Regions from separate parts of the Homo sapiens genome. Here all the other regions are linked to region 2. Evidence: fine-mapped expression QTL. A gene starts in region 2. Each other region holds a variant in brackets. All regions are shown on one strand. Distances are between the middles of the regions.

Evidence for each region. PIP is the estimated chance that this variant, and not a neighbour inherited with it, causes the effect.
Region 1: its variant is the best candidate, but not a certain one, in a credible set for the expression of ADAM10 in cerebellar hemisphere (GTEx, PIP 0.61).
Region 3: its variant is the best candidate, but not a certain one, in a credible set for the expression of ADAM10 in whole blood (INTERVAL, PIP 0.51).

The regions. Positions count from the first base shown.
Region 1 is chr15:58,609,138-58,611,901 of GRCh38, forward strand. ADAM10 (ADAM metallopeptidase domain 10) reads right to left here. Exons shown (of 16, transcript NM_001110.4): 12 at 2,671-2,764; 13 at 1,862-1,970; 14 at 1,160-1,380. Among named protein-coding and RNA genes, the nearest start is that of LIPC-AS1, 110 kb to the left of the region's middle. The variant A/C (reference allele first, on the strand shown) is at 1,433.
Region 2 is chr15:58,748,448-58,751,211 of GRCh38, forward strand. It overlaps ADAM10 (ADAM metallopeptidase domain 10), which reads right to left and starts at 1,260. Exons shown (of 16, transcript NM_001110.4): 1 at 1,033-1,260. The coding sequence starts at 1,087. RefSeq lists enhancers at 393-1,028, 480-609, 1,700-1,879 and silencers at 720-1,009, 1,340-1,629.
Region 3 is chr15:58,687,222-58,689,985 of GRCh38, forward strand. The region is part of intron 2 of ADAM10 (ADAM metallopeptidase domain 10); the gene reads right to left. It also overlaps the pseudogene LOC100289060. Among named protein-coding and RNA genes, the nearest start is that of ADAM10, 61 kb to the right of the region's middle. The variant T/TTATA (reference allele first, on the strand shown) is at 1,545.

The DNA.
Region 1 (2,764 bases), 140 kb before region 2:
ACTGCACCATGGTACCAGAAGACAACTTCAGTTTGACAGGTATTTACTAGAACTTACCACGCAACAAGCACAGGAATTTAAAAAAAGAGTAACATGTTTTAAGGAAACCTAAGTTAAGTCAACTGCTCAAGTATTTGGTTTGAAACCTAGGTAGATCTCCTAAATCCAATTTCAACAATCCTTCTACTCCATGATCATTACATATCTAAAAACCACATATCCTAATGTGTCCTAGGAACGGTAAACATCATTTTAAATGCTGGGGTTAACTATAAAATTTTTACTCTAGAATGTTATTAGAAGAGTACAAAAAAGGCTGACATCCCACACAAACAACATCTTTTGTGCTTTAAGGCATCCATAGTTCTGAACACACACATACATACATACACACACACACACATACACACTAATTTGAGAAAGGGGAATGTGAGTTATAAGTCAATTTCCAAAGCAAACTACATTCAGTTCAATTATAGCACATTCTCAAATATATCATTTGCAAGCTTCCTATAGATATTTTAATGTTATCACTTTTAAAGCATGAACACTTAAGTTGAGATAGTCAATCTTGACAATCTTTTAAGAAAACATCAGGTAATTCTGTGTTTGTACAACTTGGAGATATGTGGGCTTAAAAATAAGCGTTCAGTGGATTACTGCTGGATGAACATCCATAATCATTAGTAGATCTACAAAAGGCTGTGTATCTGATCTTATTCTGTTCAACATTTCCTATTACAAACAAGATAAAGACCCAGAGATTATACTGAAAGATCAGGAAAAATCACCAATTAGTCCACGATTTGGGCAAATAAGTTGTCTTGAAAAACAACAAAAAAAAATGTTTTTTAAGTCCCATGAAAATGCCCTAATAATATGCACCAAAAGAAGTAACCCATCCAGGAGATGAACTAAGGAGCACGGTAAAACAGAATGACTCCCATCACCTACTAAGCAATCTATGAATGATACACATGATTCTGATCACTTCAGAAGGAAATAATAACCAGAAATATTAGAACTTTAAAAATCTTCATATAAAGTAATTCTAATATAAATAGTTAAGTTGTTTTCTCGTAACTTTGATGACTTCTGGCCAAGTAAAATTAAGATCAAACCACTTTAAGTTTTCTTTGTAAATAAAAAACATACTTACCACAATCCATTCAGCAATGTTTTCATAGAGCTCTGGACTAAAAATTGCTTTTTTAAGCCTAGCTAGAGGACCATCAGCATCTACTAATCTGCACCGCATGAAAACATCACAGTAACCTCTAAAATCGTTGCAAGGGGATCCAGGTTGCAGGGTGATGGTTCGACCACTGAAGTGCCTACTCCACTGCACAGACCCTGTACTGGCACAAGTTGATGGGTCCACTGGAAAAGAAATGCCAAATATAAGCTGAAGGTCAGATTCAAATATAAGTTG[A/C]AGATCAGATTTCCAGTTGTGCAAATACAAAGAGGGAAAAAAAACTGAAATCATTACCATAACATGTTATACAGACCTTCTCTAGTTAGGCTGGGTAACGCCATCAGTAATTCATATTAAATGTTACAATGTAAACAAGCAACCAGCAAGTCTTGACTCAGTGTCCACGATGACTTAAAGTCTAACAGTGTTTATGTAAATTACTGCTGTAAAGCTGGCAACGTTTTGTCTAGTTTATCATTTTTAAAACATTGTAGAGACCATAATAATAGAGACACAATGCTACGTTACATTTATAATCTCCTCAAGAGGACAGATTTAGCTGGAAATTATCTGGCCAAACTGTAGGTCAAAGTTTTACACTTAAAATTTAGGAGAAAATAATAGTTTGAGGCAAATTTTATACTCTTGTGTTTTTAAAAGCCTTACTTTTCTTCATACAGCATACATGGCATAATTCTTTATCATCTTTGCCATCAGAACTGGCACACGTACACTCCTCTAAGCCATATTTCTCACAGATAGAACCTGCACATTGCTAGAAGAAAAATAAAAGACAAATTGTTTAATCCCTATACAGTCAAACCTATTTTTTATAGTAACAGACAGGCAAGTATGAGCTTCCAATGTCAAAATATTTAAATGGAAATGAAAGTGAAAAACAAACAGAGATGAGTATCAAAACTGAATTACATAAATACATTTGAAAAAATTTGAAAAACAGTAAATCCAAGAAAGATAGTAAATCTTTTAAAGCAATGGCAACTTAAAAAAATGAAATAAAAGCAGAGCAAGAGATTAGATGAGGATCGATTTTATGTTGGTTATTACGGCTCTTCTATAAAGAAAGAAAAATTAAATTTTTTTCCTGTAGAGCAAAGTGATATTCAGCCACAAAAGCTTTGAAGGTTTGATATTCAGAGAAGATGACCAAAGAGTTCTTTTATTTAGGCTACTGAAATATTATTTTATAAAACTTAAATATTATAGACAAATCACATGCCGAGTTGTACAACTATGTTTCTCTAGAGAATATCAACCACATGTACATGGAAAGATGAAAGACAAATTAGTAGCTAATTGAATGCCACATAATATATTCATGGTTTTGTGAGGGAATATTACTTAAACAGAGACCAAGATTAATTACTTTAACTATGTAGCTTTAAGCATCAATAATTCTTCTGAAAAACAAGTTTTCTAAAATTAAATTTTAAAACATATAGTTAAATGCTTACCCCATTAATGCACACTTGTGTATGCCTATTACAGTCTGTGAAGTTTGGTTTAGGGTCAGATGCTGGGCAGAGAGCTGTGAAGCCATTACATATT
Region 2 (2,764 bases):
AGCACTTTAAGCAAGAATAAAATGATGCAGCTGGTCCTAGAACACACCGGAAATAAAAATCGTTGTCTTCAAAACCCGAAACAAGAAATGACATGCTTTTAGCAAATTTGACTTTCATGTGCAGGGGGGAGGGGGCACTGTTTTGACAATCCACTAACTACACTGTACATCTACTCCACCTGAAAGTTTAACGAAACTCTTCAAGTTGGGTCACCCAGGGACCGAACTTCTACTCTAAGAGACCCAATCCAGCCTACAAATCAAAGAACATCCCCAAATGGTTTACCCTTCTCCCGACCAAACCCTTTCCCCTGGGCGACAGAATGTTTTCAAGAACACCAACACACCCTCCTGTGATCTCTCTCCAAACACAGGACACAGGAAGAACCGAGGCCACTAGTCTCAGATAAGCGGGTGATGACTGCTGCCACTCCACGGGCGGCCCCTCTGCAGAATGGGGTCGGTCAGGACCGGCGCGCCGGGTAAAGAACAATACACGAGCCCAGCTGCAAACAACACAACTTCCCACGAGTCTGCGCGGCGGGTCTCGGCGGCGGAGAGGACTTCGGAATCCGCCACCGGGCAGGGGCTGGGGGAGGAATGGTGAGCAGGATGAGCGCTGAACGAGGACGGCGAGACCGCCAGCCTCGCTGCGGCTGCCTGCACCGGCGCCCGCCGAGCAGACTGGAGGGATGCAGCCACCAGCCTGGGTTCCACCGCTCTCACCAGGCGACGCGGATGCCCCGACTTCGCTTCTCTGGGAGGCGACCCCCGCCTCCCGGGGCCGCCAGGGCGGTGGGGGGCGGGGAAGGCCTCGCCGGAGGCTTGGGAGCCTCCTCGGCCCGCCACCGAAGGGAAAGCGGTCGGGGCGCGGGGGACAATAGGGAGCGGGGAGCGCGGCCCGCCAGAGTGGCGCCGCTGGCCGGCTGGGCTGACTGACGCGCACGCCGCGAGGCGCGACTGGGCTCCGCTCGGCCCGGCCGCCGCTCCGCCGTGGTCGCGGCGCCCCCGGCGCTCGCAGTCGTGCCTCACCTCCCATCCCCGCCGCCCAGGAGAGGAGCAGAATTAACACTCTCAGCAACACCATCTTCCGCTGCCGCTGCCGCCGCCGCCGCCTCCTCACGGGTTAACAGCAGCACATCGATCCGGAGGGAGAAGCTGAAGGGGCTTGGTCCGGAGCCTCCACGGGAAGCCGGGACCTCCCCTGGCAGGAGAAACGGCGAAGCACCTCCCTCTCGCTCCACTTCAGGGGCCGGCAACGCTCCTAGCTCCTCCAAAACAGGGACCTCCCTCCCCCTCGTTCGTTTCCTTCCTCCTTTCCCCGCTTTCCTTCCCTTGCTCGTTCCCTCTTCTCTCCCCCCCTCCTTCGAAACTCAGACCTCCGCCTCCTTCCTCACCACGTGACGCGCGGGCACCCAACTGGCACGCGGAGCCGCGCCCCTACCTCCCGCCCCTACCCGTCCCCCAGGCGCTTCAGGGGCGCGCGCATGCGCGCGGGGGACGGTTCCCGTGCTGCTAGGCCTGCCGCCGCTTCCTGTCCGCCGGCGGAGAGCTGGGATTGGGCTTGGGAGGCGGGGTTTGTCCTGGTCCCGCCCCGGGGCGGGAGCGCTCCTACGCGGAGATAGTGCTCCGCTACGTGTTAGAGCTGCTGAGGACCTTCCCTTGGGCTAAAATGGTCCGTGGAAGATGTAAGCAGGGCTGCTTTCGACTTCTTAACGTCACAAGTAACAGAGGTTTTTTTTCTTCTTTTTCTGCCTCTCTTGGTGCACCACAGCTACCAAGTAAACAAAAAGTCCCAACAAGCAGTAATTATAGCGGCAGCTGCCCCAGTGATGCGAACATAAATGCAAAGACCTTCAAGCAGCAGGAAAAAAAGACACCATGTCCGAGATGTAATTTTCCGAGCTCTTTACAAATTTATGTCACAGACTAAGGCTTTAGCCTTTGCAAAAGCATGCAACCTGAACCAGACTGTCTTGAATCTCCAGTCCAGAAAATGTCCTCTTTTCTCTCTGTCACATCTTTGAAGCGAATCCACGCACATCTTCTCCCCAACTTCTTAAAGCTTGTGTTTGTTTTCTCGTAACTCATTTTGATTCTTTAAACTTGGATGTCATGAACTAGAACTTTTTATGGCCATTTAATTAGATATTCTTCATCTATTTGGTATCGTGCTTGAGTAGGCCGAATTAGGGAGAGTGTGTGTGTGCGTGTGTGTGTGTGTGTATGTGTAAATTGTTTTGTTTTGCTTTCTAAAGACAAGGTCTCCGCTGTCTCGCCAGGCTGAAGTGCAGTGGTGTGATCATAGCTCACTGTAACCTCCAACTCAAGCCGAATTAGGGAGAGTGTGTGTGTGTGTGTGTGTGTGTAAATTGTTTTGTTTTGCTTTCTAAAGACAAGGTATCCGCTGTCTCGCCAGGCTGAAGTGCAGTGGTGTGATCATAGCTCACTGTAACCTCCAACTCAAGCGATCCTCCCGCCTCGGCCTCCCACAAGTGCTGGGATTACAGGCGTGAGCCACTGCGCTCGGCCTTAATGTTATTGATACTGTAATAAACTGGAATTCCTATACTGTTACCTGTATATTTTATACCATTTATTACCATTAACATAAGTGAAGAGAATTTTTTTTTTTTTGAGACGGAGTTTCGCTCTCGTTGCCCAGGCTGGGGTGCAATGGTGTGATCTCGACTCACCGCAACCTCTGCCTCCCAGGTTCAAGCGATTCTCCTGCCTCAGCCTCCCAAGTTGCTGAGATTACAGG
Region 3 (2,764 bases), 61 kb before region 2:
AACTTGTTTGGAAAAGTTAATGTTATGATGTGCATTAGGCTGCCCCATCGTGTATATAAATGAAGCAGATTTGGTCTTTGTATTCTTACGTTCCTCTACTTTGTAGCTGTGGCTGTACTTAAAGAAATACAGAATTTCATATATTTAAAAATGTTTAAAATGTGACCCACAGAACATTGTAAATGATTAAAAACTAACATAAAAACATTACAACCTAAAAGAATTCTTAACTTCACAAGGGTTTTACTTTGATGATGTGAATCTGATTTAATTTGGGACACTTTTTTAGAAGGATACATTATTTGTGTTTGTAACAGTCTTTGAAGAGCTTGGAAATAAAATTTCTGCTTAATTAATCATAAAAAAAAAAAAGGCTCAAAAGGGTCAAGCTGATCCACAAGTTACTCAACTATCTAACAAACAAAACTCCATACTTTTTAAAAAAAAAATACGAACAGTTAAACTGTGGTATATCCATACAATAGGATAGAATTTAGTAATAAAAAGGAACAAACTATTGATAAACACAACAATTTGTACAAACTTCAAAAAAATTATGCTGAGTGGAAAAGTCAATCTCAAAGATACTACTTGCATAATACGATTCATGCGACAATCATGAAATAATCTAATTATGGAGATGGAGAACCAATTAATGGTTGTTTAGGATTATAGATGGGGGAGGGGATGAATGTGGCCATAAAGGGATAGCACAAGGGAGTCTGGTGATGCTACCATTGAGTATCTTTGATTGTAGGGATAATTACACAAGACTACCCATGTGACAAAATTGCACAGAATTATGCACAGGCACACACACATGCACGTACATGTAAAACTGATGAAACCCAAATAAACTCTATGCATTGTACCAATATCAATCTTGGTTTTGATGTTGTAATATAGTTATATAAATTGTGAACACTGAGGGAGACTGGGGGAAAGATGTCCAGGACTTCCCAGTAGAAGCTCCTGTGACTCTACAATTATTTTTAAATTAAAAGTTTTTTAAAAATCCAGACACAGGTGGGCACAGTGGCTCACACCTGTAGTCCCAGTATTTTGGGAGGGCAAGGTGGGAAGATTGCTTGAGCCCAGGAGTTTTCAATCAGCCTGGGCAATGTAGCAAGACTCCATCTCTAATTTTAAAAAAAACAAACAACGACAAAAAGACACTAAATATTAATCAAAATGTGAAATATCCAATTAAAAACCACAAACTATTAAAAAAAACAAGGGGTAAAAAAACCAAACCACTAACTATAAAGAAATGTGACAAAGAAGAAGAAAATTAGTCCCCCCCAAAAAAAGTGAGAATGAATGATAACGGAATTAGCAGACAAGGATTTAGTGATTTAGTGTCTATATATTGTAAATATGTTAAAGAATTATGGGGAAAATATAAGCACAATAAGGAGAAACCAAAAACTGTCGAAAGAGGGGAGGGAAGGGGAGGGACAGGGAAGAGAGGAGAGAGGGAAAGGAATGAGAGGGGAGGAAACTTCCAGAATTGGAAAATATAATTTCTAAAATGAAAAAAAAAA[T/TTATA]TATATATATATATATATATATCTCTCTCTCTCACTGGACTGACTTAAGAGCAGATGAGATACTGCAAGAAAGAATATCAGCGAACTTGAAGACAGGGTAACAAAAACTATCTAACTTGATGTACAGAGAGATAAAGAGTTTAAAAAAAAAAAACCCAGAGCCTCAGTAACCTATCAAACAGTAAATAAATAAAGAAGCGAGAGGAGACAGAAAAAAAAATTTGATAAAATGATAAAAAACTTCCAAACTGATAAAACTATAAACACAAGTCTAAGTAACTCAACAAACACCAAGAAAGATACACACAAAGAAAAACCCACAAAACACACCACAGTCACTGCTGAAAATCAGCGTTAAAGAGAAAATCTTAAAATCCATCAAAGAGACTGATTATATGCAGAGTGACTGCTGATTTAACATTAGAAATAATGCAAGCAGGCCGGGCGTGGTGGCTCACGCCTGTAATCCTAGCACTTTGGGAGGCCAAGGTGGGCAGATTGCCTTAGCTTAGGAGTTCGAGACCAGCCTGGGCAACATGGTGAAAGCCTGTCTCTACTAAAATACAAAAAATTAGCCGGGCATGGTGGTGTGCATCTGTAGTCCCAGCTACTCAGTAGGATGAGGCAGGAGAATTGCTTGAACCCAGGAGGCAGAGGTTGCAGTGAGCTGAGATCATGCCACTGCACTCCAACGTGGGCCACAGAGCAAGACTCTGTCTCCACAAAAATAATAATAATAATAATGCAAGCTAGAAATTATTGGAGTAACTTTTTTAATGCTGAAAGAAAAACAATGTCAATCCAAATTCTACAGCCAATAAAAAAGATCATTAAAAAATACATTGTCAATGAAGAATAAAAAAGAAAACATCATTCCAGTACTGCAGACATTGAGTGATAAAGTAATATTATGAGCATAATGAAAATAAATTCAATTACTTAGATAAAATAAACTCCTTAAAAGGTACAAATTATGAAAACTATCACAAAATATAGAAAATCTGAATAAGCCCCTATCTACTGAAGAAAATGAATTCATGATTTAAGGCCTTTCCACAAGAAAAATACCAGGGCCAGATGGTTCCCCTGATGTCCTATAAAACTATTTTAAGAAAACAGGAGGGAAGAGTACTCAACTCATTTTATGTGGCTCACTCTGATTCCAAAACCAAAGACAGACCCCCCCCAAAAAAAAAAAAAAAAGACTGATATTCCTTATG